2 separate regions of the Homo sapiens genome follow, and region 2 is linked to region 1. Evidence: fine-mapped expression QTL. Tissue or cell type: whole blood. Region 1 holds a variant in brackets; the other region holds the start of a gene. All regions are shown on one strand. Distances are between the middles of the regions.

What was found. PIP is the estimated chance that this variant, and not a neighbour inherited with it, causes the effect.
Region 2: SLC39A11 starts here. The variant in region 1 is fine-mapped to the expression of SLC39A11 in whole blood (TOPMed, PIP above 0.99).

Annotation. Positions count from the first base shown.
Region 1 is chr17:72,693,564-72,696,244 of GRCh38, reverse strand. All of the region lies in intron 7 of SLC39A11 (solute carrier family 39 member 11), which reads left to right. Among named protein-coding and RNA genes, the nearest start is that of LINC00511, 54 kb to the right of the region's middle. The variant C/A (reference allele first, on the strand shown) is at 1,173.
Region 2 is chr17:73,091,327-73,094,007 of GRCh38, reverse strand. It overlaps SLC39A11 (solute carrier family 39 member 11), which reads left to right and starts at 1,320. Exons shown (of 10, transcript NM_139177.4): 1 at 1,320-1,397. RefSeq lists a silencer at 2,160-2,391.

The DNA of each region.
Region 1 (2,681 bases):
CCATGCTTTCCGATCTCCACCTTGGACCGCAACTGAAATGCCAACTCCTGCCTTCCCCTCCCCCTGCCCCATGACTCCCAATCCCACCTGTTTCCTTCCGAGATCTTCACAAGCTGTAATTATATACACTTTTTTCCTCGCTTAATTATTGTCTGTCTCTCCTTGCAGACTCTTTGCCCCATAGCGGGGTCTGTTTCACCACGCCCAGCATCCAGGTGTGGTGGTGCCTGCCCCTGCATTAGTCTCCTGTGGCTGCCTAACAAATTACCACAAACTGGGTGGCTTAGAACAGCAGAAGTTGATTCTCTCACACTTCCCAAGGACAGAAGTTGGAAATCAAGGTGCCAGCAGATAGCTGTGCTCTCTGCAGGCTCTGGAAGGAGGACCCTTCCTTGCTGCTTTCCAGCTCCTGGTGGCTGCAGGCATCCTTTGGCTGGTGGCCGCATCATTCCGGTCTCTGTCTCTGCCTTCACTTCACGCAGCCTTCCTCCTCCTCTCCTCTGTGGGTCTCTCCTCTGGTTGTCTTTTCTAAGGACACTCGTCATTGAATTCAGGGCCCACCTAGATAATCTAGAATGATCTTATCTCTACCTCCTGAAGTTAATTACATCCACAAAGACCCTTTTTTTTGTAAATAAATCATATTCCTAGGTTCTAGGACATGGCTATCTTTTGGGGACTACCATGCAACCCTCTGCACCCTCTTCTGTGTGAGATTTCTCCCAAAGGAAAGAAGTTTTCAGTCTATGGCCATAATGCCCAGTTAGTACTTGGATGGGAGAAATATTCAGCAATAACAGCTTGCCAGGAAGCACCCAGGGGGTGCAGCGCCCTGTTTTAGGCACAGAATCCAGCTGGCTGCAGCCCAGGCAGCTCCTTCCCTCATGGAGCTTATTCCCTGGATGAGCAGATGCATGTGGACATGTCAGGCTGTGGATACTACGTGCCGGGAAGAAAAACTCAAGCCAGGAATGGCTCAAAACTCCTGAGAACATGATAGGGAGGAGTGGGGGTAGAGAGGGTTCTGTTTGAGGAGGAGACACTGAGGCAGAGACCCAATCAAGGGAGGGACAGAGGCCTCTGGGAGATGAGGTCAGAGTAACTCAAAACAGACTTCCCGTTTCTACCCTTCTTGGCATTTCTGACCTTTGTGTACCCCATTCCCTTGATTT[C/A]CAAAGAGAACCAAGGAACTGCATACCAGCAGAAAGAAAGGGGCAGCTGCTTCTTAAAGGGAGGAGATCACAAAAGAAGGGTCAAGGGAAGGTCTATGCTCAACTAAGGGCAGCCATGCCCACAGCACCTGCCTGGCCTCGGTCCAGAAAGATGGAGTGAGAGACAGAGACTCTCCCGGGGAGGAAATATCGTAATGGATGTCCATGGAGGCCACCAGCATCTCCAGTTCACAGAGCCAGGACAGGAGCATCTGCAAGGCAAAGTAGCCTGGGATGACAGTCAGCAGACCCCAGCCCCAGGTCTTCTCTCTGGTGGCCCAGGGTTTGTCAAAGGGAAAATGCTATTTTGGATTGTGGTAGACGGACCCTGAGGGGACCACCCCACCCTGCCCACAAGGTTCCTCCACCTTCGTATTCAAGTTTTGTCCGTCATCTTCTGGCCACCATTCCTTAGCTTGCCGTGGAACCACTGGAGGTGACCCAAAAGGAATTTCCAAACCAGCCCTGCTACAAAACAAGTCCCGCAGTGGTTGGGGCAATGGAGGGGAGCCCCACAGAGCCGCCCTGCAGACAGCTGCACAGTGGCGAGCAGCTGAGATCCGGGTATCGTGATGTCTGAGACCAAGGAGACAGTTCTTCCAAAGTCTCTGAAACAGGAGCCAGAGAAGGAAGCCACGATGGGTACCAGGGCTCGGGGAGGTATCCTAAGGAGCCAATTCTAGCTCTCCTTCCTGAAGTTTAATAAAGAAGAAAATCACATGAGCTCAGAATGAAGCACCATCTTTGGTTTTCATTTACATGTTCCACAGCCCGGTGGCAACCTCACAGTGGATTTTGTGAGACCCCCTTCTCAGGAGTCCCCATGCTCAGCAGAGCCAGCATGAGAGAGGGCTCGGGCCACCCTGCCTCACCCACCGCTGGCTCCACTTCCCCAAGACTGTGTCTGCCAGCCATGCTGCAAGCTGGGAAGCCCAGCACAACCTCCTCTATCTTCCTCCTCTTCTTCCTCTGGGACTCCCTCAGTCCAGCCCCAGACTGAGCAAGGAGAGGACTCTGTCCCCTCGGGAGAGTCAGGGCAGGGAGGTGGGTGCTTTTTCTATAAAGAGCTGGGGGCTGGGCTCGGTGGCTCACCCCTGTGGTCCCGGCACTTTGGGAGGCCGAGGCGGGTGGATCACGAGGTCAGAAATTCGAGACCAGCCTGGCCAACATAGTGAAACCCCGTCTCTACTAAAAACACAAAAAATTAGCCAGGCGTGGTGGTGGGCGCCTGTAATTCCAGCTGCTTGGGAGGCTGAGGCAGGAGAATCGCTTGAATCTGGGAGGCAGAGGTTGGAGTGAGCCGAGATTGCGCCATTGTACTCCAGATTGAGGAGTGGCATGGCCATTTGTCCTCCAGGAAGTTGATTGTGGCAGCTGCGGGCTGCTGTTTCCTTGGCTGTGGGTCTCAGGTGCTGTTGGATTCTGTGCTGCTGAGCGTGCAGCGGCTTTCGTGAGATCTGCCACGCTTGG
Region 2 (2,681 bases), 400 kb before region 1:
GACGTTATTTTTCTGAAATTCAAATTTAATCAGGCTTTTTTTTTTTTTTTTGAGATGGAGTTTTGCTCTGTTGCCCAGGCTGGAGTGCAGTGGCGTGATCTTGGCTCACTGCAAGCTCGGCCTCTCGGGTTCACGCCATTCTCCTGCCTCAGACTCCCGAGTAGCTGGGACTACAGGCGCCTGCCACCACGCCCAGCTAATTTTTTGTATTTTTAGTAGAGACGGGGTTTCACCGTATTAGCCAGGATGGTCTCGATCTCCAGACGTTGTGATCTGCCCGCCTCGGCCTCCCAAAGTGCTGGGATTATAGGCGTGAGCCACAGCGCCCAGCCCAGGCATCTTGTTTCTATCTATTTATTTATTTTGTTTTGTTTTTGGCTAAATCTAGTCAATCCTATCCTCTGGTCTTTTCACAGAAATCCTGCAGATCAAAGCCTTTGACCTAGGGCAGTGCTTTTCAAAGGGTGGTCCCAGGACAGCAGCATCAGCAACTCCTAGCTCAAAACAAGATCTCAGGCCAGGCGCGGTGGCTCATGCCTATAATCCAGCACTTTGGGAGGCCCACACGAGTGGATCATTTGAGGTCAGGGGTTCGAGGCCAGCCTGGGCAACGTGGTGAAACCCCGTCCCTACTAAAAAAAAAAAAAAAAAAAAAAAAAAACAAAAATTAGCGGGGCTTGGCAGCATGCACCTGTGATCCCAGCTACTCGGGAGGCTGAAGCAGGAGAATCGCTTGAACATAGGAGGCAGAGGCTGCAATCACCCGAGATTGGGCCACGGCACTCCAGCCTGGGCGAAAGAGCGAGACTCCATCTCAAAAAAACAAAAGCAAAAACAAAAAAATCCCAAAATGTCAGCCCCACCCAGAATGACGGAACCAGAGCCTCTGGGGGTGCTGGCATTTTGTGTTTGACCCCCTCCAGTGATTCTTTTGAGGGTCATTGACTGGAGAATGATGCCGATGCCATCACATTACCCGCCCCCAGCCTCTCCCGCAACACACACACAGCACATCCTGCTCTGCTGCGCACCCAGTGGCATGGACCTGGCTGCCAAAGGTGTAGAAGCATAAGTAACATCAGGGGTGTTACAAAGGGCTCTTTCCTTGGGTGTTTGTAGCTTCCCTTAGGGCTGCAGTCACTCGCAGACTGCTGGGCTCTTGGCCTCAGGGCTCTGTTCTGCCCGCCCAGATCTGTTCCTGAGCCTGCAGACGGCTGTGAACCAGAGAATCTATTCTTCAGGCGGGAGTTGCCAGTTGCGGCCAAGGGGGCGGGGCCCGGAGGCGGGAGGGCCACGTGTGCGGGAGGGAAGCAGGAAGTGACTGCGGGAGTGGAGCCGGCGAGAGAGTGGCAGCGGGGGCTGATGGAAGTGCAGTGGGGGCTGGAGAGGGCACCCTAGTGAGTTGGCTTTTCTCTCCTTCGGTGCCTTTGGTTGGGCTCGAGGCCCGGGGTCGGAGGCCATCAGGACAAGAGTGTGGGACTTGGAAGGGCAGCCACCTGGAGCTTGGAAGGGGGTACGCCTGGAGAGAGGAGGGGTTTGGAGGAGAAATTGGAGGCTTTGGCAGGTGTCGGGGCGGGGTGGGAGGGTGAGGGGCGGTGGGAAGGAAGTCCCCGGACCCCGGCTATGTCCCTCTCCAGGGTGATCTGGAAGGCAATGACATGCCTTCCTTTTACAGTCCTAACCCAAATCCTCTTCGTTCGTCCCTTCCTAGGCGGTGTGTGGGGGTACCCGGGATTCCTGGGAGCAGAGGCAGCTACAAATCCAGCTGCTCCCAGGCCCCTCCCACTTGCTCTGGCTGTTAGCTGGACCTCTGGAACTTGACTGGGAATCTGGTTAACTTGCAGCAGGTCTGGGTGGGGCGTGACAGTGTGCATTTCTAACTAATTCCCAGGTTGGGTGGTCCGCGGACCACGCTTTGAGTAGCGAGGCATTAGAGAACTTTTCCACAGTCCTCTCCGCCCAGACCTGAATCCTTCTGCTGGATTCCCCCTCGTGGAGTTAGGGCATGTGTGTGCAGCTCCACTAAGGCCCAGCAGCCCTAGTGCTGTTTCCACTTCTGCAACTTCACCAGCCTCTTGAACTGACTCTTGGAAGCGGAACAACAGGTTTAAAAGGGGGAGAAAGGAAATAAAGAAAACAAACCTGTATCAATCAGCCGGGAATGCCCATGTGCTGCTGTGGCAGGTGTGTACAAGTCTACAGGCTGTTGGCATGTTAAAAGTTGGAACGGTCAGAGAATGATTCTCCCTGCTGCTAACGAATCAGGGTTGATGGAATTAATATCCCCATCGTGAGGAATTCTGAGCCCCATTGTGTAAGCTGTGATGGAGATGCTGTGTCCTAAAGTTGTTACTGGTCTGCCGGTTAGAGAAAACTTCTTGTTCTCTTGGGACTCTGCCAGAAACTTTTTCTTCTCTTGAGACTCTGCAGAAAACTTTCTGTTCTTTTGGGACTCTTCTTTGCTCTTGCCAATCCCACATGGGGCAGGAGAACTCATTTTCTAAGCTCTTGGTATTGTAGAAGTTTTACCAGTTTTATTTATTTATTTATTTTTATTTTTTTTTGAGACAGAGCCTTGCTCTGTCACCCGGACTGGAGTGCAGTGGCGCGATCTCGGCTCACTGCAACCTCCGCCTCCCGGGTTCAAGCGATTACTCCTGCCTCAGCCTCCCGAGTAGCTG